Homo sapiens: one gene and its partner. The protein of the gene in region 1 interacts with the protein of each later gene in a pairwise test. Each region holds a gene or a part of one and is shown on either strand. Other genes may lie near its edges. The genes, in order: FUNDC1 and SLC25A46.

Evidence for each region.
Region 2: the proteins of FUNDC1 (region 1) and SLC25A46 interact in binary tests that used the Homo sapiens proteins (3 or more experiments, as listed by UniProt).

What each region holds. Positions count from the first base shown.
Region 1 is NC_000023.11:44,536,195-44,552,575, reverse strand, and holds the start of FUNDC1 (FUN14 domain-containing protein 1), read left to right. Parts: upstream 1-9,716; 5' UTR 9,717-9,743; coding exon 9,744-9,771; intron 9,772-10,474; coding exon 10,475-10,631; intron 10,632-14,033; coding exon 14,034-14,109; intron 14,110-16,381. UniProt on the Homo sapiens protein: Integral mitochondrial outer-membrane protein that mediates the formation of mitochondria-associated endoplasmic reticulum membranes (MAMs).
Region 2 is NC_000005.10:110,748,812-110,760,285, forward strand, and holds part of SLC25A46 (mitochondrial outer membrane protein SLC25A46), read left to right. Parts: intron 1-6,653; coding exon 6,654-6,710; intron 6,711-7,184; exon of another isoform or gene 7,185-7,310; intron 7,311-7,890; coding exon 7,891-7,948; intron 7,949-11,474. UniProt on the Homo sapiens protein: Transmembrane protein of the mitochondrial outer membrane that controls mitochondrial organization.

The DNA of each region.
Region 1 (16,381 bases):
TGGCCAATATGGTGAAACCCCATCTCTACTAAAAAATACAAAAATTAAGCCCGGTGCGGTGGCTCACGCCTGTAATCCCAGCACTTTGGGAGGCCGAGGCGGGCAGATCATGAGGTCAGGAGATTGAGACCATCCTGGCTAACACAGTGAAACCCCGTCTCTACTAAAACTACAAAAAATTAGCCGGGCGTGGTGGCGGGCGCCTGTAGTCCCATCTACTCAGGAGGCTGAGGCAGAAGAATGGTGTGAACCCGGGAGGCGGAGCTTGCAGTGAGCCGAGATCGCACCACTGCACTCCAGCCTGGGCGACAGAGCGAGACTCCGCCTCAAAAAAAAAAAAAAAATTAGCATGTACCGCCATGCCTGTAGTTCCAGCTGCTCGGGAGGCTGAGGCAGGAGAAATCACTTTACCCCTGGAGATGGAGGTTGCAAAGAGCTGAGATCGCGCCATTACACTCCAACCTGGGCGACAGAGTGAGACTCCATCTCAAAAAAAAAAAGTATTAATGCTGACTGAAAAAAAAAATACACTATTTAAAATGGGAATAATAATAATAAAAAACACTCTTTTGAACACATCCTGAGGGTTATAGTGCTTTGTAAAGTTTGTGTATAAAATTAACGCATTAAACCACTCGTCACTCAGCCAACAAAATGACAGCTTTTTCACTACTGGTAAAGAAAAAATCCACACTAGAAAAATACATTATACAGCCAACTTCTGTAAGGTAATGACAAGGGCATATTATCCCAAGATGGAAGGGAAAAATGCTAAAAACTTCTTTCTCAGCCCTCAAAGACTTTAGAGAAATGATTGCTTTTTAATTCATTTGTGGATACATTCTGGATACATTTTAGGCAAAACGATCTATTCTTTGGCATTGTCAAAAAACAAAATTGCAACAGATTTAGTTTAAAGATCATAATTGGCTCTAATTTGTGATTCTAGAATCAGGCAACATCTCATTCTATAAAGTAAAATCAGTGTTCTGATGGGCTGAGCAGAGGAGGTTGGCTTTATTATAGACAGAACCTGGCTGAGGAAAGCAGATACAGGGAACAGAAAGCAGATTGGTTGTTTGAAAGTTACTTTCCAGTCCAGGCGCGGTGGCTCATGCCTGTAATCCCAGCACTTTGGGAGGCTGAGGCGGGCGGATCACATGAGGTCAGGAGTTCAAGACCAGCCCGGCCAACATGGCAAAACCCCGTCTCTACTAAAAATACAAAAATTAGCCAGGCATGGTGGTGCATGCCTGTAATCCCACCTACTCAGGAGGCTGAGACAGGAGAATTGCTTGAACTCAGGAGGTGGAGGTCGCAGTGAGCCGAGATCGCACCACCTCACTACAGCCTGGGCAACAGAGAAAGACTGTCTCAAAAAAAAAAAAAAAAAAGAAAAGAAAAAGAAAGTTACTTTCCTTGTAAAGGTTAAAGCAAAGGGGACTATTTGGGGATTTGGCTATTATCTCTCTCCTGATTTCTTGGAAGGTCAAAAGATTTCTTGGCTTTTTGGTGGTATGGAACTTCCACATGAGTGACTTTATTTTGCTTTGGTCTGTTGGTCCTAGTGCGGGAGTTCAGTCCAAACCAAAGGCCTCCTATAAATTTTATTCTATTTTCATTTATATTTATTTATTATTATTTTTTAAGACAAGTTCTCTCTCTGTCACCCAGGCTAAAGTGCAGTGGCACAATCAGATATCACTGCAGCCTCAACCTCCTGGGCTCAAGTGATCCTCCACCTCAGCCTCCTCGTGTAGCTGGGACTACAGGCACGTGCCACCATGCCCGCCTAATATTTTTATTTTTTGTAGAAATGGGGTCTCACTGTATTGCCCAGGCTGGTTTAGAATTCCTCAACTCAAGCAATCCCTCCACCCTGGCCTCCCAAAGTGCTAGGATTGCAGGCGTGAGCCACTGCACCGGCATATACATTTTATTTAACAGCATTTTAAGAGGAATATTTCTTAAAAAATTCTCTTCCTCATTTCTCCATAGCCATTTGATTCTAACTACCATATACTTGATAGGTAAGTGACTTCTTTCTGTAGTTGGCAGATATTGCTAGAAATATTGTAACCACCCAAGGGGTTCACCTTGCCCGCTGCCTACACAGAGCAAATTTATCAAGACAGGGAACTGCAGTAGAGAAAGAGTAATTCATGCAGAGCCAGCTGTGTGGGAGACTGGAGTTTTATTATTACTCAAATCAGTCTCCCTGAGCATTCAGGGAGCAGAGTTTTTTGTTGTTGTTGTTTTTTCTTTTTAGAGGAGTTTTGCTCTTTTTGCCCAGGCTGTAGTGCAATGGCGCAATCTCGGCTCACTGCAACCTCCGCCTCCCGGGTTCAAGGGATTCTCCTGCCTCAACCTCCCAAGTAGCTGGGATTACAGGTGCACACCACGACACCTGGCTAATTCTGTATTTTTAGTAGAGATGGGGTTTCACCATGATGGCCAGGCTGGTCTTGAACTCCTGACCTCAGGTGATCCACCCACCTCGGCCTCCCAAAGTGTTGGGATTGCAGGTGTGAGCCACCGTGTCCGGCCTGGGAAGCAGAGTTTTTAAGGATAACTTGGTGGGTAGGGGGGATGCCAGTGAGCCAGGAGTGCTGATTGGTCAGAGATTAAATCATAAGGAGTCAAAGTTGTCTTCTTGCACTGAATCAGTTCATGGGTGGGGGCCACAAGATCAAATGAGCCAGTGTATCAATCTGGGTGGTGCCAGCTGATCCATCAAGTGCAGGGTCTGCAAAATGTCTCTAGCACTGATTTTAGGAGTAGTTTATGGAGGGTCAGAATGTAGTAGCCTCCAGCTGCATGACTGCTAAACCATAATTTCTAATCTTGTGGCTAATGTTTGTCTACAAAGGCAATCTAGTCCCCAGGCAAAAAGGAGGTCTGCTTTGGGAAAGGGCTGTTATCATCTGTTTTTTGTTTTGTTTTGTTTTGTTTTGTTTTTTTTGAGGTGGAGTCTCACTCTGTCACCCAGGCTGGACTGCAGTGGCGTGATCTTGGCTGACTGCAACCTCCACCTGCCAGTTTCAGGCGATTCTCCTGCCTCAGCCTCCCAAGTAGCTGGGATTACAGGCGTGCACCAACATGCCTGGCTAATATATATATATATTTTTAATTTTTAGTAGAGACAGGGTTTCGCCATGTTGGCCAGGCTGGTCTCAAACTCTTGACCTCAAATGATCCGCCTGCCTTGGCCTCCAAAGTGCTGGGATTACAGGCGTGAGCCACCACACCTGGCTGTGGTCTTTAAACTATAAACTTAGTTTCTCCCAAAGTTAATTCAGCCTATGCCCAGGAATGAACAAGGACAGCTTGGAGGTTAGAAGCAAGATGGAGTCGGTTAAGTTAGATATCTTTCACTGTCTCCTCATAATTTTGCAAAGACGGTTTCAATATGTCAGTGTTATTTGGATGTCATTGGCCCTGTCAACCCTCCATTTTACTCTTCCAATTTATTGTTTTCCTTTCTCTTGTTTTTTTTTCCCTTTCTCTTCTTTCAGTGGCCCATCATTTGCTACTTCTCTATTTGTTAGCACCTCATTAAGAATGGGTTGGCAACGGGAAAGAAGGAGTGTACGAATTCAAATCTGTAATTTTTGGAAAAATATTTCAGAGAGGAGACTTGAAGCTATGTCCCGTAATGTCGTTTTGTTTTTGAAAAGTGGAGTCATACACAAAGTAACTGTCTTTTAAATAAACATTAACTTCTCTAGCCAGTCTTAGAATTGCATGTTGAGGGCTACAGGCTGAGGAACTTTGGGGAACCAACCCTTGTATCTAAAGTGCCAGGATTTTCTTAAATCATATTTGCCTTAATGGTTATTTCCTTGATTCACATCTTTTTTTTTTTTTTTTTTTTTTTTGAGACAGGGTCTCTCTGTAGCGTCAACCTCCTAGGTTTAAGCAATCCTCCCACCTCAGCTTCCCGAGTAGCTGGGACCACAAGTGTGCGACACCATGTCTGGCTAATTTTTTATATTTTATTTTTGAGATGGAGTCTCGCTCTGTCTCCCAGGCTGGAATGCAGTGGCATGATCTCGGCTCACTGCAACCTCTGCCCTCCTGGGCTCAAGAGATTATCCAGCCTCAGCCTCCTGAGTAGCTGTGACTACAGGTGTGTGCCACCGTGTCTGTCTAATTTTTTAATTTTTAGTAGAGACCGGGTTTCACCACGTTGGCCAGGCCCATTTCGAACTCCTGATCTCAGGTTATCTGCCCACCTCGGCCTCCCAAAGTGCTGGCAGTACAGGCATGAGCCACTGTGCCCAGCCAATTTTTTTTTTTTTTGTTTTGTAGAAACGGGGGTCTCCCTATGTTGCCCAGGCTGGTCTCAAAGTCCTGGGCTTAAGTGATCCTCCTGTCTCAGCCTCCCAAAGTGGGATTACAGGCCTGAGCCACCACACCCAGCTGCTGATTCATACTTTAAAAAATCCGTGTCACACATGAGAATTAAATTCTGATTTTTTTATCTTGCCCAAATTGCTATCTAAGGGGTCTGGGGAGTCATGCCCTACAAATCATAAATTCTCATCAGATGGGTTTTATTTAACCCTATACATTGTGACTTACTTTCCAAACTGACTCTGGCCTAACATTACAAGACAAAGAAGAAAATCAAATGTTTTACCCCAAAATGTTTCTTTGCCATATTTTGAAATGGCCTACAAAGCTGTTCTTTGTGGGGGAAAATTTGCATCTGTAAAGAATCTATATTAACATAGCTAGATATTTTTCTTCCAAACCCTCCTAATCCTAAAGAAATTAACTAAAATCTGAATAGGAAACATTTGTCATCTATTGTTTCTAAGGGCAGCCACTATAAGACTTCATAAGACTTCAAAAGAACTTTGGTCTCCACAGTCTTTATCTTAACCTGAACATTCCCTTTCTATGAATCCCAGGTCTTTAGATAAACTCAACCAATTCTCAATCAGAAAATGTTTAAGTTCACCTACAGCCTGGAAGCCCCCGTTTTGAGTTGTCCTGCCTTTCTGGACCAAACCAATGTATTTCTTTTTTTCTTTTTTTTTTTTGAGATGGAGTCTCTCTCTGTCACCCAGGCTGGAGTGCAGTGGCACAATCTCAGCTTGCTGCAACCTCCACCTCCCAGGTTCAAGTGATTCTCCTGCCTCAGCCTCCCAAGTAGCTGGGACCACAGGCATGTGCCACCACGGTTAGCTAAGTTTTGTATTTTTAGTAGAGACGAGGTTTCACCATGTTGGCCTCCCAAAGTGCTGGGATTACAGGCCTGAGTCACCATGCCGGGCCTCCAGTGTATTTCTTAAATGTATTTGATTGATGTCTCATGCCTCTCTAAAATGTATAAAACCAAGCTGCATCCTGACCACCTGGGGCCCATGTTCTCAGGACCTCCCGAGGGCTGTGTCATAGGCCATGGTCACTTATATTTGGCTAAGAATAAAGCTCTTCAAATATTTTACAGAGTTTGACTCTTTTCGTTGACAAACATAAATATGCAGTAAGTCCTCACTTAACTTTCAAAATAGACCTATGATTTCTATTTAGCGAATTGAGAGTAAATCTTATAGAACTATATAGTCAATTTAACAATTTTTCACCAACGTCCTGAAATAATCACTTTAATCACTTTCAAGGTCTGATTTAAAATCTTGAATAAGGCATATTCCTTGGTCCCATTCTCAATTTAGGTGTGAGTTTGAAGAGGCACAGGGTGAGTATAGGTTTGGTTACACTAATGTTTTAAAAATTTTATATAGTCATTAGTCACTATGTCTGGATAAAATGTTGTTTCTTGGGATCAGCAACACAATGAACTTAATTGCCTAAGAATGAACACATTATTTCAGTGTGTCTGTATTCATTAGACCACCCTATTAATGTCCAAAGTTTCCAATATCCTCACTTTTGAGATACTTCAGTCTCTCATTTATTATTATTATTATTATTATTGAGATGGAGTCTTGCTCTGTCTCACCCAGGCTGGAATGCAGTGGCGTGATTTCGGCTCACTGCAGCCTTCGCCTCCTGAGTTCAAGCAATTCTCCTGTCTCAGCCTCCTGAGTAGCTGGGGCTACAGGCGTGCGCCACCATACCCGGCTAATTTTTGTATTTTTTTTAGTAGAGACGGGGTTTCACCATGTTGGCCAGGCTGGTCTCGAACTCCTGACATCAAGTGGTCCTCCCGCCTCGGCCTCCCAAAGTGCTGGGATTACAGGCATGAGTCACCAAGCCCAGCTCTCATTTATTATTATTATTATTATTTTCAAGATGGAGTTTTGCTCTTGTCACCCAGGCTGGAGTGCAATGGTGTGATCTCGGCTCACTGCAACCTCCGCCTCCCGGGTTCAAGTGATTCTCCTGCTTCAGCCTCCCGAGTAGTTGGGATTATAGGTGCCCACCACCACACCCAGCTAATTTTTTGTATTTTTAGTAGAGACGGGGTTTCTCCAAGTTGGTCAGGCCGGTCTCAAACTCCCGGCCTCAGGTGATCCACCTGCCTCGGCCTCCCAAAGTGCTGGGATTACAGGAGTGAGCCACGGTGCCCAGCCCAATCTCTCATCTTAATTGTGTTCTTTTTTGGCTATGTGTTTAGACAGTTTGTGGTCCTCTCCTCCATCCTCTTCCCTCAACTGTAAAAAGTAAAATAGAGGTTCCTCTTCAAAGACGTTCCTCCCGGTCTAATTAGGAATAAATGGTAACTTCTTTTAAAAGCAAAATTTATTCAAAGACCTGTGCTAACATTCTTAAATATCTGCTAGCCATAATAAAGGAATCAATGTATTTTATCTTCTTATCTCCTACAATTTAGCCTCAATATTTGCCCTGGCATGCTTATACTGGTCCAAGCAAGCATTAGGTCATAGCTTGTTCCTCTTCCTTATTTAAAAGTGTTTTTATCTTTCTCAGCATTCCACAAGTTACTTCCTCTTTCCTTTGTTCTCCTCTACCTTTGCCTCTTTTAAAAACTTCCAAGTTGCTAGCCAATCAAGACAAATACAGAATGTGAGGTCCCGTTCCAGCCAGTGGAAACCGGACACAGCAGTAAGGTAGACGCGTCAGGTTATAAATGACCCTGTGTCCTTTGTTCAGTGTACTCTTGTGGCAAAACTGCTAGCGAGTGTTCCCTTTCTGCAAAAAGTAAAAATGGCCTTACTAAATAAATTAAATTTATGTTCAAGTGCTATTTCTTTATGGCACCGGAGAACAAGCATTTCAAACACAACCTTGCAAACCACCTCCATGAACATTAATTTAAATAAAGTGATTGCCAGGATTGTCCACATGCTTTTGCTATCTCTACACAGTGAAATTATACTGGGTCGTAGCAAAAGAGAATTTGATTTTCCAATCAGTTTTAAATTAAAATAAAACATAATTGAAGCTAACAGGCTAATTAGTTGCAGAGATATGGTAAGAAATAAAGGGAGACAAGTTACTCAATAGTTACTAGAAATTAGTATCATAATACAAATGATAATGAAGGTAAGCCATTCAATTTATAGGGATTTTACATGCTTAGGAAAATTCCTTTCCCAGTCAACAAATGACAAAACATAAACTTGCAAGCTATGTGTTAAGTTGGTGCAAAAGTAATTGTGGTTTGCTATTAAAAGTAATTAATAAATAAGAATATTAATAAATGGGCATATTGTAAAAAGAAATAATAAAGTGCCAGGATTTGAAAAGCCAAGTGCATCTATGCAAGCCAATTTTTAAAGTAATGCAATTTATGCCAGAATTCCTTGTTTTTCCATTAAAATGAATACTGAGAGGACTTTTGTTTAATTGTACAGCAGATGCGGGTGCAACGCAAGTTCAAGACAAGTTTCTGGGTTGGTTTATGTGGACTTGGGTTAGCTGCTTGGTGATCAATATGGCTTTGTATTCATAGAATCCCATGGGGTTTCTGGGTGAAGACCTTGACCTTGTTCCTCTGTCAGATTTAAATAATAAGAATGATGCTGGCCGGGTACGGTGGCTCACCCCTGTGATCCCAGCACTTTGGGAGGCCCAGGTGGGTGGATCACTGAGATCAGGAGTTCGAGACCAGCCTGGGCAACATGGTGAAACCCCCTCTCTACTAAAAATACAAAAATTAGCCGGGCGTGGTGGCACGTGCCTGTAATCCCAGCTCCTTGGGATGTTGGGAGGCTGAGGCAGGAGAATCACTTGAATTCGGGAGGTGGAGGTTGCAGTGAGCCGAGATTGTGCCATTGCACTCCAGCCTGGGCAACAGAGCGAGATTCCATCTCAAACAAACAAACAAAAGAATGACACTAAAAAATTATGTCCTCTTGCCAGGTCAGGAATTACGAGGTTTCTAGGCCTTTCTTTACCTCCTTTGGATTCCTGGCAGGAACTCAAGAGAGAGAGCAGGTAAACAGATTCCAACTTCTAGCAGCAGGGCATTAGAAAACTTGTGGTCCCTTTGTGAGCGCTTGCGCCCTTAGAAAAGTATGGCTTGAAACAGGGTTTCTCTTATCTTTTACAAGCCTTTTTCCTCAAGCATTTGAATTCTGGTAATGTTCAAAATACTGTTAAAAAATTATTCTGACAGTATGCAAGTGATGGGCCTGACAAAAAAATTATGGGACACTTCTTAAAATGGTAAGGAAGACTTTGTTCATGACTACTGCAATAGGTATCACAACTATTGCAATACAGCCTGGCATGGTGGCTCACATCTGTAATCCCAGCACTTTGGGAGGCAGAGGCAGGAAGACTGCTTGAGCCCAGAAGTTTAAGAGCAGCCTGGGCAACACAGGGAGACCTACTCTCCACAAAAAATAAAAATAAATTAGCCGGGAGTGGTGATGCACGCCTGGAGTCCTGGGTACTCTGGAGGCTGAGGTGGGCCGATCTCTTGGGCCCAGGAGTTTGAGGCTGCAGTGAGCCATGATAGCGCCACTGCACTCCAGCCTGGTGACAGAGCAATACCTTTTCTCATAAAACAAAGACTATGGCAATAGGGGTGAGTGATGGGTCTCAACTCTGAATACAGCAGGGAATTTATAGTAAATGATCAGAGTGAATGGATCAATGGGTGGAAGATTACCAAGAGTAGACATGAAGGGTAGGGGTATTCTTGCTAAAGCCAATTTAACAGGATTTTTGCTGGTGGCAGAGTGATCAGATATCAAGAGTGGGGTTGAGGAATTCGATCGGATATTGAGGGTGATTCGATATTAAGGGTGGGGGAGTTCTTACTAAACTGACTTAACTGCATTCTTACCACAAATGGACTAGGCAGGTCAAAGACGACCCAAGGAGGAGACCCAGTCAAAAACAGCTCAGAGGAGCCTCCTGACTAAAGTTTGGTCAAGGAGAGAGTCTTTGTCAATACCCAGCTGGTTCTCCCTTTGTACCACCATGTGGCGCCCTTCACCCCATTCCTTCAGCCCTTAAGGCTCTTTTAAAACAAAATAATCAAATTCAAGTTACGGAAATTCTAGGAGGGGCGGTCCCTCCCCCTTCCTAGTTGCGGAAGGCAACGGACTACAAGTCCCCTACGCTCTCGCGGGGCTATGATCCGCCCGGCCCTCCCCACATTCCGGAGTTTCGCGCCTGCGCAGAAGGCAGAAGGTCCTGCGCTGAGAGAAGGGGGCGGAGACAGGACTACGCGCCTGGAGTAGGAGAAGGAGGAAAAAAGAGACCATAGACTTCCATCCTGGCCTAGAGCGGCCCTTAAAGTGCCAGGGAGAGGAGGGCGGGTGGGGACCACTCCAGAATTGGCCGCTGGCGGTATCATGGCGACCCGGAACCCCCCTCCCCAAGGTGAGCGGCCAGGGCCCGAAGTGGTATCTGGGACGCGGCTCACAGCTCTCGACCTTGCTCCTATGGCACCTCTTCCTTCCCCTGCCCTAGGATTCTTCGAGCTCCATTTTTTTTTTAAGGCAGCCCCTTCGAGCACCCCCTCCGAGCTAGACTTTTTCCTCCCCTCTCTGCGGAACTCAAGCGGAGAGCCACCCCCACCCCCAGCACAGCCCTACCTGCCTCCTGCCTTACCTTCACCTCCGGCCCTTCATCTCCCATCTTCAAATGTATTATTTTCTTTTTTTAAACGTCTGGACTCAAGTGATTTCGCTGAGCTCCAGACTAGTTCTCTCAGGAGGACCCCTCCCCACCCCCATTCCTCCCACTGATGAAAATGGACCCTGCTCTGACCTTGACCCTACTAAGGTTTGGAGGTGGGGGTGACCCCTCACTACTGTGTCATTCTGAGTTGGCCCTGGCTTCGTGACCCCAGGCTGGTCCCCGGGCCTTTGGGAAAGCAGATGGGGGTCATTGTTGCAGGGTCCTTTACTCTTGAGGCCCTGGTCTCAAGAATTGAGTTAAATAAAGTCAGTAGTTTCTATGTGGGCATTTTTAGCTGTAGGCCAGAACTAATGAGTTGTAACAGATTTTTAAAAAGATGTATAGAACATTTCTGACTTTTGATTGACTCTACATTTATTTTTTGCATTTTGCTATTTTGAAGACTATGAAAGTGATGACGACTCTTATGAAGTGTTGGATTTAACTGAGTATGCAAGAAGACACCAGTGGTGGAATCGAGTGTTTGGCCACAGTTCGGGACCTATGGTAGAAAAATACTCAGTAGCTACCCAGATTGTAATGGGTGGCGTTACTGGCTGGTGAGAACAACGTCTTTTTCATTAAATTTCATTTGGGGGCCTGACACTGCTGTCCTTTCATACATGGGCAAGAATCACCGTGCACAGGCAGTAGGTCTACACTGTTAATTCCAGAAGAGGCTTTTCTCTGAGTTAAAATTGATGTAATCTACATTCCCAGGCTCCCTGTTGAGTTTTGGCGATCCCCTCCCCCATGCCCACCACTGTTCCTCTTCTCCCTCCTCATCCTTCTTTTGATTCTTTATATAATTTCCCCATTCTCATGTTCAGCAAATGTCGTGGATCTGATTCAGTGATAGTAGATAGGAAGAAATATATGAGTTAATTATATGTAAATTTTTACATTTCATTCAGTGCTAACTGCTGAAAAAACCTAAGAAACTCCCACGGTAGAACTGGCCTCTAGTATTGTCAGCCCTGTACAGAGCAGTGTAAAATGCTCAGTATGAATTATTGGTGATGATACAGATGATTCTGTTTTTTGTGGGCTCGTTCAGATTATGATAACTCTTTGAAAAAGAGCTGTAGAACGTTAATTCTGTGTTTAAAGGTCTGATTGCTTACTTGATAATATTGTGGAGTCCATTAAGAAGTAGTTAATAACCATCAGCCTGACCAGTTAACATTTCAGACCACGTGATAACACAATGGCTACTGTGGATCTAATTCTGTTCTTATAATAAAAAAACTAGCCAGATAACAAGGGGCAGAAACAAATTTGACTGTTTTGAAAATGTTCGTGACTGTAGAGAAATTTTGGAGTTAGTGAGGGTACTTAACTTGTGCATAAGCGTTTTTTCTTAGATTCTTATTTAAATTCATCTTACATAGATTTAATTGAAATATTTACCTGTTTCCACTTGATAAGTATAACGATGAGTTTTTTGATTTGTGTTTTACATGCACCTTGGAATAATGACCCACTCTTCTATGCCTTTTTTTTTGCAAATGCCATTTTATGATAGAAGTACTCATTGTGAAGATTCTGTGGTGCAGAGGTGCGGCATTTATTCATGATATGTACTTACTAGTGCTGCTGCAGGAAAAAAGCCTGCAATTAGAAGAGAGATGCCTGTCAGGGCCTGGTCATTCAGATAATTCTCCACAGGCTGATAGTTCCTCTAGCCCTGTAATTCAGGGTATGGCTCTGCTTAAATAAGCTCACAATTTGGTTCCATGGGTGATTGGTTAATGTCAGTCAGGGCCTAAAGCCCAGTCTTAAAACAGACTCAAAAATAATTGAGAATAGAATTATCAAGTCATTTCATTGTTTCTCCTTGGAGACCAGACTCCTTGTAGATGAAGCCCCATCATTGGCAGAAGTTTGCTCGGAAAGCCTAGAGACAGAGCAGCAGGAGATAGGTTCATTTTAGTGACTGATGCCATCAAGCAATGGATACACATGCTTGTGGAACACAGTCCAAGGGACATTGTGGCTGCTGCCTGCCTTTTCTGTTCCCTTTTCTGAGCCTTTGTTGCTGACATATATGTATATATACATACACACACACACACACACACACACACACAACACACACATTTGGATTACAGCCAGGTGTTGGTCCAGGAGCTGTATAATACAACTCTAATAATTATACAGGCGATTTGTTGCAATGACTATATTCAGTGTAGTAAATTTTTGCAATTTTCTTAGGATGTAAAACTGATGTGATATTATGGTGTATATTAAGGAGGAACAGTTAATAGGCACTAACCTAACAAGTTAGCAATTTAGACCAATTCAAGACATGTATAGGAGGCTGAGGAGATTTTATTTTGCTGTAGGTAGCTGTAGGCTTTTGATCATGACAAAAAATTAAAACTATTAGGATGGGTCCTTGCTAGGAGAGATGGGAGGTGTTGAGACCAGTTAGAGGGCCCTTAAAGTGTTCTGGAAGCAAGGTAATGATGACCTTGAGAGTGGAAAGGAGAAGACAGTCAAATAATGTTTTGGAGATAAAATATATAGAACTGTGGAGGCCAGGTGCGGTGGCTTACACTGGTAATCCCAGCACTTTGGGAGGCCGAGGCGGGTGGATCACCAGAGGTCAGGAGTTCAAGACTAGCCTGGCCAACATTGTGAAACCCCGTCTCTACTAAAAATACAACAATTAGCTGGGTGTGGTGGCGGGCATCTGTAATCCCAGCTATTCAGGAGGCTGAGGCAGGAGAATTGCTTGAACCCGGGAGGCGGAGGTTGCAGTGGGCTGAGATGGCACCAGTGCATTCCAACCTGGGTGACAGAGCGAGCTCCATCTAAAAAATAAATTAATTAATTAAATTAAATAACAGAAATTTATTCTCTCACAGTTCTGGAGGCTAGAAGTCTGAAATCAGGATGTCAACAGGGTTTGTTCCTTCTTGGAGGCTCAGAGGGAGAAATCTGTTTTATGTTTCTCTGCTAGCTTCTGGTGGTTGCCAGCAATCCTTGTCATTCCTTGGCTTGTAGACGTATTACTCCAGTCTCTGCCTCTGTTGTCCTCACATGTCGTCTTCCCTCTGTGTGCGTCCTTATCGGATTAAAGGCCCACCCTGTCCAGTATGATCTCATCTGAACTTATTACATCTGCAGTGACTCTGTTTTCAAATAAGGTCACATTTAGAGGTTTTGGGAAGGATATGAATTTTGAGGGGGACACCATTCAACCCAGTGCAGAAGGCTAGAGTTAGAAATATAGGATTCATTTGCACAGTGTGGATCTGGAATGCTGAAGGGAATGTGAGCTCACTGAAGGAGCGAATTAATGACAAAAGAAGTATGAGCTGACACAGGGTAGATGAGACACAAAAAACATTTAATATAAAAATAGGTAGATATAGATAAGGAGGCCTTTAGAAATGTGGGCTGAAGTATAGTTATTGAGTGGAACAACAGCTGGACCTGAAAGGGTAGGAATGGTAGGAAAGCTTTAGATAGGTAGAGCTAGGAAGAAACCCCTAGAAGCAGGGAGATTAATAGCTTGAGCAAAGGTGATGACCTATTTGGAGGTTAATGGGGTTGGAGCCGAAGGTGGGGGTCAACCAGGTGTATGGACCATCTTGACTGTATTAAGCAAAACATCACTTTTATTACGGGAGGTTTCAGCTTATACAAATGTAGGAGGAATATAATGAACCCCTGAGTACTTGTCGTTATTTTAGTAGCTGCTCTTTTTTTTCTATAAATTCTCCTCCTCTTCTCTCCGTCCCTTATTTTGAAGCAAATTTCAGACATTTTAGATTGTGCATTTTTGACTAGCCTGTATAACTGAGGGGTTTCTGAGAAGGTTTCTGAGCAGGTAAGGGATGTGATCAAAAGAAATGCAAAGACATAAGATTTTATTAGGAAAGCAATGAAAAGTAGAAGAGGGAGAGGGTTTAGTACATAATTGATTGTTTTCATCTTTTGTTATTTGATTAAAGGTGTGCAGGATTTCTGTTCCAGAAAGTTGGAAAACTTGCAGCAACTGCAGTAGGTGGTGGCTTTCTTCTTCTTCAGGTATGTCAGAGCTTTAAGCACTTGCCTTTGCTTTCATAGAAGGTGGAATTTTTCTTTTAGGCATCAGTTTATGGAAGAGCTACAATGAGTTTTGGAAGCTGACTTTTGTCTTGAAAGATAACAATTTAAATACTTCTGAGTTATTAAGCATAGTTTGATCCCAGCTATTAAAAAGACAGCCATTACCGAGCGCATTGGCTCACGCCTGTAATCCCAGCACTTTGGGAGGCAGAGGCAGGCAGATCCCTTGAGGTCAGATGTTCAAGACCAGCCTGGCCAACATGGTGAAATCCCGTCTCTACTGAAAATACAAAAATTAGCTGCCATGGTGGTGCACGCCTGTAGTAGTCCCAGCTACTTGGGAGGCTGAGACAGGAGAATTGCTTGAACCCAGGAAGCGGAGGTTGCAGTGAGCCGAGATCGTGCCATTGCACTCCCGCCTGGGCAACAAGAGCAAAACTCTGTCTCCAAACAAAACAAAACAAAACAAAAATCCATAATCTTATATCTGAGGCAGATAGATTTGAAGTTTTAGTTTTGTTCATATTCTTGTAAGTATAAGATCTAAAAATGCTTTGCCATTAGAGGATGTTTATCAGGGCATCATCTGGCATTCATGTCTGTTTGGCATGTATTTTTTCAAAAATATCATTCCTTGAAGATCAAATATAGTAAATCCAAAAATTGAAAATCTCTACGAATGAATGTGAGCAGCACTTTTAAAGATACAGAGAACTGTCACTTGTACTAGATTTTAAAAATGATTGATGTTCATAGCCACCAGAATCTGAATTCAGCACCTAAGCCATCGATCATGTAATAACTAGTGTAGTTGTAGTACAAGGGGACTAGATTTGTATGTATGAAGCACAGATTTTGAGTTGTTCACTAAACAGCCTTTTAAAAATATATATGTTTTCTTTCTTTTGGTGACATTATTACGAATAATTGCTTATTACTTGTGGTAAGAGGTAAAAAAAATGATTAATACCTAAATTTAGTTCTTTGGATGAATATGCCAGCATTAGTACAGATGATAATTTTACTTAAGCTGATTTTGACTTGGTTTTATATGGAATCAAGAGCATATTTTATTCCATAGCTATTTTGAAGACTCAGTTGTCATTTCTGTTAGTGTAAAAGGGTACTGGACTGAAGCAGAGTTTCCTAAAATGTTCACAGAATGGAGAGAAGTGTATATTTTAATCCACTCTGCATGTCAGTTTTTCAGAAGTCCATTTCAGTTCACTCAATATGCACCATTCAAATCCACATTTTGTCATTGCCACCTCCCACTTTTCCGCATTTAGTACACGTAGTCTTTGAAGTTTTTAAGGCAGAGCAACATAGGACCTATCTGCATCAAACCAGTTTTTCCCACAAATACGACTAACCTTGAAAACTCAGTAGAAGGAAAGTGAAAGGGGAAATAAAGTAACAAATGGCTTTTAGGCTAATTGCCTAATATTCTTTAGGCCCACTTTCATATTTTTATGACCTTTCTTATATTTAAAGGTAAATATTAGTTTATTTAGAACTTAAAGCTTTTCTAGTAACAATATCAAGTGTTTTCCAATAGATATTTATTACACTGCCATCTTAAAGTACACAGTCTCTTCGTTTTAATTTTTTGGAGTTATACATCCTTATAATTCAAAGGGCCAAGTACTTGTGCAAGGCTTGTTACAGATTAGAGTAATCCTCCACCTCTCTCACTACCCCCATTTTTCCATCCCTTGAGACATCCAGTTTGCACTCTTAACTGATTCTTAAGGTAGTAATCTCTTTTTCCCTAAACAAGTTAATTGGACATTTCTTGATCTTTCAGTTTTAGGTGTGAACTATTGGCTTCCCATTATGGAATGGGAAAATTTAGCTGTCATTTATTGACCTGTTTTGTTTTCCCTATACTTCCCCAAATCTCACATACCTGAATGCTTTCTTCCCTCTCCCTCAATCGTCTGAGTGTAGTTACTTCCCTTTTTTCATAATTGTGTTAGATCATTCATTATATGGAGTTCACTGAGATTGATTACTTGGAGTTCACTGAACTTCTTGAGCCTGTGAATTTATGTCTTTAATCATGTTTGGGAAGGTTTTGGCCATTATTTCTACTAGGAAGTTTGGGATTTTTTTTTTTTTTTTTTCGAGACAGAGTCTCGCTCTGTCGCCCAGGCTAGAGTGCAGTGGCGCAATCTTGGCTCACTGCAACTTCCACCTCCCGGATTCAAGTGATTTTCCTGCCTCAGCCTCCCAAGTAGCTGGGATTATA
Region 2 (11,474 bases), on another chromosome or scaffold:
TTGGGTATGTATGAAATTGAATATCAGGAAAAGAAGCTGAGGTGCTACATTAAAATACGATTGTGCCTTTTTAAGTTTATTCTCTATGGGTTTGGAATGTGTTTCTTTTTTTAATATATAGATGTTCTGATCAAGATATATTCAAATGGCAGTATAAAATAAATGGAGTTGTATAGACAGATTTATGGAGATCTATTGTAATAATCTAGGCGAGGCTGAGAAGGTTCTGAACTGTGGAACAGAACAGAAAGGGATGAGCTGGCTAGACATTTCTGAAGTATAGTCGATGGTCATTATGTTAGCTTGGTAATTGGAGATAGGAGAGAATGAGTTGTCAGTAGTGACTGAGATTTCTAGATTGGAAAATGTTAACCAAGATGGAGAATTCAAGAAGAAGAAAAAGTTGGAGTAGGGAAGAAGATAAAGAATTTATCTTTCAATAAATGAAGTTTGAGATTCTTGCAAGACATTGAGGGAGAGGGACATGTCTCATATTTGGTTGGAACCATGGATCAGAGTAAAAAAAAAAAAATAGAAAATTGAAGCACAGGGAGAGCTTTGGGTATTGTGGCATAAAAGTAGCAGCTGAAGCTTAGGATAGATGAAATCACCTAAGGAGAAAGCATAGATTAAATGAATAAAATGGACCAAGGACAGAATCCTAGGCATACATGTGTGCCGTGTGTGTGTGGGAGCGGTGGGAAGGGGGGTAGTTGGGGGAGATAATGAGAGAAATTAGAGAGGGCCTCAGACAAATTGGAAATAGCATAAGATGTAGGACAATCATGTTCTAGAAACCAAAAATGGGAGAATTAGAAGTGTAGATACATTTGAGAGAGAGGGTAGAGAAATTAGGGAAATTTGCTTTTGGGTCTCTCTTTTCTCTGTGAAGCAGGATACAGGGTTATTTGGTGAAAAAATGATAAGCATTGGGGTTGTAGTAGAAAAGCATGAGAGGAATGATACACATTTGGGACAGTCACAATGATGGGTAACAAAGGAATCTTACAAAGAGTATATGAAAGGAATGTTAATAGGTAATATTGGAAATTAGAAATTTTTAAGGTGCTATTTGGCATTACTCTGATTTTCTATATCAGCACTATATTTTTGTATATCATCCTATCGATAATGTTAAAGGCTTTGGAATGGTTTGTTAATCCAAATTTATTCTCTGGCAAGGTGAATTTTTTGCATTGTTAAAGAAGTGAGATAGTTGAAGGCATAGCTACTAGTGTAACGCATATGCCCAATGTTGGGATTTAGTCCTTACAGGGAAGGAAATGAAAGCAAGAGAAACTGATAGTAAGCTTTTTTCCAATGTGATTGCTTTTGAAGGACCTCGTAGTCTTGAAGTGCCTTAAATAAACTTTGCTAAAACGTTTGAAACAAAACAAAGATTAGAAAGGTCAGCAACATTTGGGCAGCTCAGAGTTTCTTGTTTTATTCTTTAAAAATCTGTATTTCGTTGTTTGGCTAACTATTCACTTTATTGCTTTTATATCACTAGATAAGATCCCAAGTTAGTACTTATAGTCAAATATTCTTGAAATTCTTTAACAAACAATTCTGTAAAAAAATAACAAAATGCAGGAAATTCCATTTGGTAGAGTGAAAAAAATTCAATGCAGTTGTTCCTCATATCTGTAGGGGATTGATTCCAGGACCCCCAGTGGATACCAAAATCCAGAGATGCTTAAGTCCCTTTTATAAAATGGTGTTGTATTTGCATACAACCTGTACATAACCTCCTGTATACTTTAAATCATTTCTTGATTCCTTGTAATACCAAATACAATGTAAATGCTATGTAAATAGTTGTTATTCTATATTGTTTAGGGAATAATGACAAGAAAGAAAAAAACTCTGTACACATTCAGTACAGATGCAACTATCCCTTTTTTAAATAAATATTGTAAATCCGTAGTTGCCTGAATCCATGTATGTGGAACCCATGGATATGGAGGGTTGACTATATTTGCAACCAGAACACTATTGGTTCAGGTCCTGGCTATTCCACTTTTTATTTCTGGGACCTTATGCAAGTAATGTTGCCTCTCTAAAGCAGAGATGAAGGAATAACATTAATTTCAGGCTACAGGGAAGAAAAAAGAAAAATAGGAATGGGAAGGCATAGGACTTTATAAAATTTTATCATCTAACTTTCTTACTCAGTAGACAGACATGTCAACTGAGTGGGAATATATTTTCATCATTTTGAATCTTTCCAAAGAAGACAAAATAGTAACCTCTATTGCATTGTTCTACTTGGATAATTTTGGTGATAAGGCCCACTCATTAATTCATTCATTTACTTGGCTAACATTTCCTGAGTACTTACTATGTGCCAGGTTCTGTGCTAAAAACCGGGTTTACAGTGAGGAAAATAAACAAAAGGTAACTGTTGCCAGGAAGCTCAGAATCTAATAAAAGTACATTCACTAAGAACAATAATTCCATTAATGAATAATTGCAAATTGAAATTTGTTTTCTGAAGCAAAAGAATATAGTTCCATGAAAGTATTAAAGGGCTAGAAACAGTGTCCCTAGTAACATGACACTTAAGGTAGATCAGAGTGGTAATTAGGAGGTACATACCAGTTTGTACAAAAATGCTGTTGCAGTGGGGAGCCTAGAGAATTCAGGTGTAACTGAGAGAAGCCTCACATGGCTGGAGCTCTGGCCAAGGGTAAGGGTACAGAGCAGGTGGGAGCCAGAACATGTGTGGCCCTGTAGGCCATTTTAAGAATATTGAAGAGGTTCAGTAAGGTCAGTGACATCAGATTTGTTTTCAAAGGGTCATTGTAACTGTAGATGAAAAGGTTGTATGAGGACCAAAGTGAATAAAAGGAGACATCTTAGTATTCTATTACAATAATAAAGGTAAGAAAAGATAGTGGCTAAGATCAGGGTGGTATCTTTTGAGATAGAGGTAAGTGGACAGTTTTGAAATATACTTAGGTCAAACTGAGGGAATTTGGTGATGCTTTAGGAATGGTAGATCAAAGAGAAGGCAGTATGAAGAATGACTTCTTGTATTTGGGCTTGTGTAACTAGTTGTCAAATGAAGCTGTTTTTTTGAAGTATAGTGTGAATATCTTTTAAAAAATTATTTATTCTTCTTTGGGCAGATTTGACCTTTCCTATTAATGGGAAGAAGGCAGAGTTTGTTTCTGTATCCTATTAATGGGAAGAAGGAGCAAACAAGGTCACAAAACATTAACAGCAGTTCACAGAAGCTACTACATGAGGAGGATGAGCTCTGAGGTCTCCTAGCCTGGGGTTTTTTAATTGCGTAACATTTACTAGGTAGAACAGGGGAGATAGTACAGATTTGCCAATATTTAGGGGTTTTTAAATACAGTTTATGATCAAATCAAAGAGAAAAACAGCAGATCTCTAGTGTTCATTAAGTCAGCAAATTTATAATTTCTCAGTAGTATTACTTTTTAACAAATTATATATTAGCCAGGATCGTCATGTGTGATCTCTTTAGCAGTAGATACTGCTAAACCCTTCCCTGTTCTCTCTCCCAGTTGCAGTGAGTTAAACCATGTGTCGTTCTACCCCCACAGTACCCTTTACTTAATTTACATGTGGCTTTTTTCAGACTGTTAACGCGAGGTAGGAGTTCCTGTAACCAAGGCTACCTGTGTGGTTCAGTCTCTCACAAAACCCATTTGGTTCAACTCCAACTTAGTTTTGACTCATCACACATCTGTGGTTATACCACTGTAAACATCTTGTAGTTTTCCTCCAACGGTTCCCTCCGAATTTGCTTATTTTAAACACACGTTATTTTAAACACAATGAAATCTTCCTCAAATTCAATAGATTTCCTTTCTGATTAATAGTTCCTGAGTAGGGAACACTGAAAGAGTTTAAGTAGAAAAGAAAGATTTTAAGTTGGACTTTAGTACAAGTGCATTTTCAGATCTTTTATCATATCCAGATGGAGTTGTCTGTAGGCACATGATATGGGGCTGGCATATAAAGAATTCTTAACTGAAGGTAAATTAATTTGGGAGATTTTGAAGCTCTAACCCTAGATATGAGCGTCGCTAGGGAAGAAGGATACACTATGGTAGAAGAATAGAGTCTGAACCTTAGGAACTCCAACCAAGGGGTGGCTGGGTTAAGAAAGGTGGTCTTGAAAAGGAGTCAGGAGAGACCAGAAGGCAGGATAAAAACCAACAGAATGGGCTAGTGGAGCACAGGGGCAAAGAGTGCTTCAAGGAGAGAAGAGGCTCTGATGGCTGCTGAAATGTCAAATAAGGTAGAGACTTAAAAATGTCCATCAGATTTAATGACATGCAGATTATTGGAGACTTTGGTAAGAGCTGTTTTTGTTCAAAACCAATTTGAAGTGGGTTCAGAGGTGAGTGGGAAAGTACAGACGTGGAAACAGAAAGTTTAGATGGTTGGCTCTGACTAGGATTGATGAAGAGAGGTAACTGGAAGATGAGGGGTTTAGAGTAGGTTGGGGTAAGTTTTTTTTTTTTTTTTTTAATTAGGATAGCTATTTGACCATTTGAAAATTAAAGACTGCTGAGACAGAGTTATTTTAGAATTTTATTGCCTTTTTTGTGTTGATTATGCATAGGAGTATGTGTTTTGATTTGTTAAATGAAAAACTAGACTGTTTTGAGAAAAGCAAGGTACTCGAATAAATTTTATTAATTTTTTCGTTCATTAGGGAGGGCATTTTTTGCTTGGAAATAGATAATTTAGATATATTTACATGTTTGGTATTTGATAATGAATTATAAAAAGGTTTAGTGACTGAAGCTTTTAAGTATGCTTATTTAAATTTCTAGAGCTGTAACAGTAAATTTTACCCATTTTATAAAGTAGTAGAGAACAGATACAAAGAAGAGTCCCAAAAGCATTTTTTTAAATACTTGGTTTTAAGTCTCCTTTTATCTTAATGATCTTAAGAATTGGCAGTAGTCATCAAAGGGGAGGTAACTCAGAATTGACATTGTATTTAAAGGGGAGGCTACCCAGTCCTAAGTGTTTACCACAGTTTCATACTTAAAATTGGTGTCGTCATAAACTGTGGTAATACTTTGTGAGGCCATGAGTATTAGCTGTGCCAAGATGATTTACAAAGCATGTAACGTATTTTGTTTTATAATCATAAAGTAACTTTCAGTAAGATGGGAGGCCTAATCTATTTTTTATATTTTTCGACTTAATCATTGAATAATATGATTTCAGCTACATTGTGTTGTTCAGGCCAAATAAATATCCTAATAGTAATTTAATCAGAGTTCGGCCCAGAAGGTGCTCTAAGGTCTTAGAAATCGGGGGTAGTTGCTCTATTGTCTGAAAGTCTCTGATGTATGTATATGCTGTTGTTTTTCAAATTCAGTCATGTGAAATAGAAAATGTTTATCTAGATTCCTGCTGTAGCCATAGCCATGATGGAATGAGTACCCATTCCATCAGAGAAACTGTTGGTAGCAAGTCTTATCTTTATTTTGCACTTCCCTTTCTGTTTTTTTTTTCTCTTTTTCTTTTCATTTTTCTTCTATCTCCCCTGCCTTTTCATTTTTTTCTTCTTATTTACTTTCTTTTTTTTTCTTTTCTTTTTTTTTTACCCTCTATAATCTTGACTCTTTTTGGACTTTTCTCTTGATAGAACTTACTCCCTTTTTTCACCTTTGGTTCTATTTCATTTCAGCTTGCCTCCCTCCCTCCCTTCCTTCTTTCTTTCTTTTTTTTTTCTTCCTTCCTTTTTTTTCTTTCTTTTCTTGTTTTCCAAAGGTAACCAAACTAGCAGACAGAATGCACAAAATCCTACACCTTGGTTCCAGACCTGGCATTTTTGCCTGTTTCCTTTGAACATTTTCCTGTGATCTTTTTGACCCTGATTTTTCTCATCAGTAAGACAAGTGTGACAATATCTGCTCTGCTTATCTCACAAGGTTCTTCTTTGTATCAAATAAGATGAGAGGCAGTACAGGCAGAGAGTACCGGGGTTTAGAACAGAGTTCCACACTAACTGGTTACTTGGCTTTGGATGAGTTATTAATCCCCTCTGATCCTATCTCCTCATCTATGAAATGGAGAAAATAGGGTTATTATGAAGATTAGAAATAGTTCATGCAAAGCACTTTGCATAGTCATGGCATTTAGTAGGTGCTCACAAAGATAATAGAATATAATGGTCACAAAATTATGTAATTGTACTAAGTAAAGATAATTCAGAAATTAGGTACTACATAAATGTAATGTGTCAGCCTGCATTAGAGTTACTTAACTTTTTTAAAAAATTGTCATTCTTATATACTTTGTAAAGCCTTTTTTAATCCTGTTCTTTGTTTCCATATCTATTCTCTTTCTTTTAACCAATCATCTTAATTTTCTTCCTTTAATTTCTCATGTTTACTTTCATAATCAGTTGTGCCTCTTGCTTCTCTGCCAGCCCCTTCTATCAGCACGTATGAAAACACCTTGTATTTTTTTCTCTCAAACCATCACAGTTGTTTACACTGTGTTCTAGAAAAGAAAATGTTCACCATTAGAATATATTTCTCCTACAGATTGAAAAAAATTAGAAGTTGATTACTGTTTTGAAAATTGGGCTAATTCCAGATGTTTTAAATAACATGGCTTTTGTTTTATTTAAGTTTATTTTTATGTTTTAGGGAGGTTTTACATAAATGGAGTCCTAAACAAATAGGAGAACACCTTCTACTGAAATCGTAAGTATCAAAAAATGGCATTTTTATTGGGCATTTTCACTAATTTTTATAGTATTAGAACTGGAAACAAATCTTATTAAATAACTGTAGAGAAGGAAATTAGAGCAGTGAAATGTTGGTGGGACTATAACTTCAAAGGACAAAGTAACACAGAGTTTAGGAATAAATCCTGAAATATATATTATCTTTAAAATAAATTCCTAATTTGAAAGGCTAGAATCACAGACTAATTTTGTGTATGTTTTCTTAGGAAGTTAGCATAGGTCTTCAATTTATTTAACCCAGATTTTCAAAGAAAGTATAACTATTTTATTGTTAATCAGAGATGCAAATGTATTTGTATGGTGATAAGCAAACCCAAAAAACCTTAGTGACATTGAAATGTAGTCCTGAAGGCACTTAGTGATTTTACAACGGTAACCATTTTTGTAGATTAGAATTTTATTCTTCACTTTTTAATTTTTTTTTTTGAAGATTGTGAATTGGAAATCCCCCAGCTTGCTGGCTCCCTCAGTGGGACATTCCAGCACATTATTACTTAGTGATGTTCCATTCACCTTGAAAACCACTACTTGCCAGGACCTGGCCCATAAGGGTTAGGTAAGTCCCACCTTGATATTATTTTGAATAACTATATTTTGCAGGCTTGCAAAGTTGTAATATTACTATGTCTAAATATTGGTGATAGGAAACAACTTTGCAAAGCTGTATAATGTTTTTTTTTTTTTTTAATAATAAAAGGGACTTCACTCACCATTGAAGACTGGCCTAACTCTGCTGGATGGGAAATCTGGGAATTGATATAAGAGGATAGTAACAGAAAAGTTACTTGCTCAAATATCACTAAAAAGGCAAACTATGGAATGGATCCCTCATCCTCAATTTTAAGTTTTAGATTTATAGGCTGCATTAGCTATGTGTAGGTAGATGTCCAATCTATTTTCTTTGCAGGCTGTCCTTGTTTTATCATTTGATTTTTTCATCTCTGTTGAATAAAGCATCCTACGTTACAGATTTCTGAAGTTAATATTTTTAGGCTGTAGGTATTAATAGTTGAAAACCTTAAAAAGATTATTCTAGCTTGACTATAAATTATGTTGACATATTAAAGCAGATATTAAAAAATTTAGTATAAGCATCTTGTTTCAGTATACTGATAAATTTGTTTTAATTTCTATAGCCTAACTTACGTGGTGGCAATGCCTTTTTATTCAGCAAGTCTGATTGAAACAGTGCAGGTGAGCTTTTTTTTACTGTCATTTTTTTTTTATTTAAGAATAGTTTTTTGACTATTCAGTATATTGTAGATATCTAACATTTCAGCAGAAAATTTTAAGACTATGTCTTAAAATATTTATTTTATAAATATCACAGTTATATCGCACGTTGCTTGTCTGTATATTTCCATTGGTATCTTAAGTCACACTTCTAGTTTTAATTATTTTTGTCCTTTCCATAGGCAACTATACTCTTCATTTAGACATCTCAGAACACAGCCTATAACTTGCTCTGAAAACAAAGAATCTATAAACTTTTTAAGGCCCTTACATACAACTCAGATGGTTATGGCTTATCATTGGACAGTAAATTAATAATTACCTGAGAATAAACATGATGGATAATCATCCGAACAGGAAGCAGGTTGTCCCCACAGGTAGTTTACTGACAGGATTCTTTTAAAACATGCCTTTAAGTGACATTTGATACTATTGGGTGTGGTAAATACTACAAAGCTGAAGCAATTTTCTGCTAGCACTTGAAATTCTGTTTGCTTGTGTTACTATTCCTAACCACATGGTGGCGCTTCAAGTACATTTAATTAAATGTCTTACCCTCCTTCCTACACTTAAAACTGTAAGATGAAGGTAGTTTTTACTTCACCTGTATACAAAATCCAACTATTTGTACACCTGTCTTCTATTTCCACATCAGATCCTCTAGCATATTCTTTTCTCTAGTATATGTGAGTGCCCTCTCTGTAAAAACTCGCACTGGATCAGCCTTTGCTCTTCTAATTACTCTTTTCTACCTTGTTTCTTTTCTGGCTGTATCATTCATCTTTGATTTATGATTATTATTATTATTATTTCTGTTAGAACTAACTTCAGTTAACTGAAGTTAGTGTCTTGCGACCCAAATCATACTTTCCCTTCCCCTTGCATTTGGCATTGTGTTAAATAAATGATGAATTTTTGTATGGTGCTATAGAATTTACAGAGTTGTCACTTGTATGAGATAGCCTCATTTTAAAGGTAAGGGAAAAATGTCAGGAAGGTAATTATTTAAGGAAAAACAACTAAGCAGAATGATTTATTGGGGAAAACAATTTTTAGCTTGAGACAGACCCATTATCACATTTCTCTGCTTAAATTAGACCTGGGACTTTAGACAGATTTCTTAACCTTTATAATTTTCTTATCCATAAATTGTGAATAGTATTTTAATAACTGACGTGTAACATTGAATGAGTTATTTATATAAGTGCCCGGCTCACTATGTGATAGGGTTTTTTCTGTGTATGTGTTTTTTTTAACCCAGTATTTACTCCTTGTTTCCTGCTTCAAGTTCCACTTGCTAACTCCTTTTGATCTCTTTTGTCTGCTTTTCTAGAACTCTTTTTTCTTTAGATTTCTCTCTCTTGAACATCTTTTTTCAATAATGCCTTTGCCATCTCTTGTCTTATACCTTAAGGCCCAATCCTTGACCCTCTGTTTTTTATCCTATACTCATTATTCTGAAAGAGCTAATTTATTCACAGGAATCATTAGCTCTAATCTCATGTGAGTTAAATCTTCAGACTCAACTTTTAAAAACAATCTCATCTGTCCCTCTAAAAATTAGCTTCCTTTAGAACCTCTTCTCCTTGGCAATATATTAGTGATACTATTGTTATCTTCACACTAAAGATTCAAAACTTTAGTTTTTGTTTTAGGAAAGTTTTTTATTTTTACATTTCTTTCATCCTTCATAATTACCCAGTCATCATGAACTTTGTAGTTATCTATTTCTTCATTAAGAATCCTTGAGGCCTAGGTGGGCGGATCATGAGGTCAGGAGTTCGAGACCAGCCTGGCCAACAGTGAAATCCCATCTCTACTAAAAATACAAAAATTAGCCGGGTGTGGTAGTGGGCGCCTGTTGTCCCAGCTATTCAGGAGGCTGAGATGGAAGAATCGCTTGAACCCGGGAGGCAGAGGTTGCAGTGAGCTGAGATCACGCCACTGTACTCCAGCCTCGGTGACAGAGTAAGACTCTGTCTTAAAAAAAATAAAAAAGAAAGAAAGAAAGAAATCCTTGTACTAGTCTCCACATTTTAAAAGTCAATACTCATACAAGATTGTTTTCAAGTTGCAATACTTATATATATCCTTTTACTGATTAAGGATTCATATTGACTCATATTCCCTAAAATCAACTTCAGACTTCTTATTATAGTTTTAAACCAAGGTTTTAATTACATCACTTTACCTTTCAGATTTGCAGATTATCTTAACTGCTAAACTTTTAAAAAAAATGTATCAATTGTTTATTGAGTACTTGCCTATATCAGGTACTGTTATAGACCCTGGGGATACAACAGCAAACAAAACCAAAATGCTCTGTTCTCATAGCACTTATATTCTTATGGGGAAAGTAGACATAAACAACTAAATAAAAGGTATATTTCATGGCGATTAACTGCTAAAGAAAGCAAAAATAAAGCAAGGAAGGCAAATAGGATGTGTAATGGGTAGGGAGGGGCGGTTAATATTTTTTTAAGAAGATAAGTAAAGGTCTCACTGAGAAGGTGACATTTGTGTAAAGATCAACATGCATATTTGGGAGAATATTCTAAGTAGAGGGAAGGCAAGTGCAAATGCCCTTACATGGGACTGTGTCATGTGTGTTGTATCATACATGCTTGAGAAGTAGGAAGGATGCCGATGTGGCTGGTGCTAACTAAGCACAAAATAAGCAAATGTTGAATTGTATTTAGAGGGAAAGCAGGTGCAAAAACTCTCAAGTGGGACTGTGTCATGTGTGTTGTATCACACATGCTTAAGAAGTAGAAAGGAAGCTGTTATGGTTGGTGCTAAGTAAGCAAGGGGGGAATACAGGAGATGAGGCCTGAGTGGTAAGAGGGGACCAGATTACATAGGACATTGTAAATCATTGTAATAATTGGGCTTTTGTTTGAGAAGGATGGAAAGTCTTTGATAGGTTTGAGCAGAGCGGTGGTGTGATCTGACTTACATCTTTATTAGGATCTCTTTGACTGTTGCATTAAAAATAAACTGGAGTGGGAAGGATGTCAGGGTCAGAAGTAGGAAGATGGATTAGAAGGCTAGGCAAGCTCACTGTCATCTCATAGTTTTAAATATCATCTATTTACTAAAGACTCCCACATTTATAATACAGTGCTCCTCCACTCACGATGGGATTACATCCCAATAAACCTGTCATAAATTCGAAAAATCTTAGGTTGAGACATCGTAAGTTGGAAACCATCTGTAGGTCCATTGTGTACCTTTTTCTGTAATTTCTATTGTGAACTCCATTTGGAGTTAATTTACTTAACATTTCTGAACTCTTGATCTTCACCAAATTGCTACTCTGGCAATTTTTCATCTCAATAAAAGGCAGTGCTATTCCCCCAGTTCCTCTGGACAGCAACCTTGGGGTTATCCTTGACCCTTCTCTTGCATACCCCAAATGCAATTCACCAGTAATTCCCATAGACTTTGATTTTAGGATAAAAGCACAATTGAACCACTTTACTTCTGT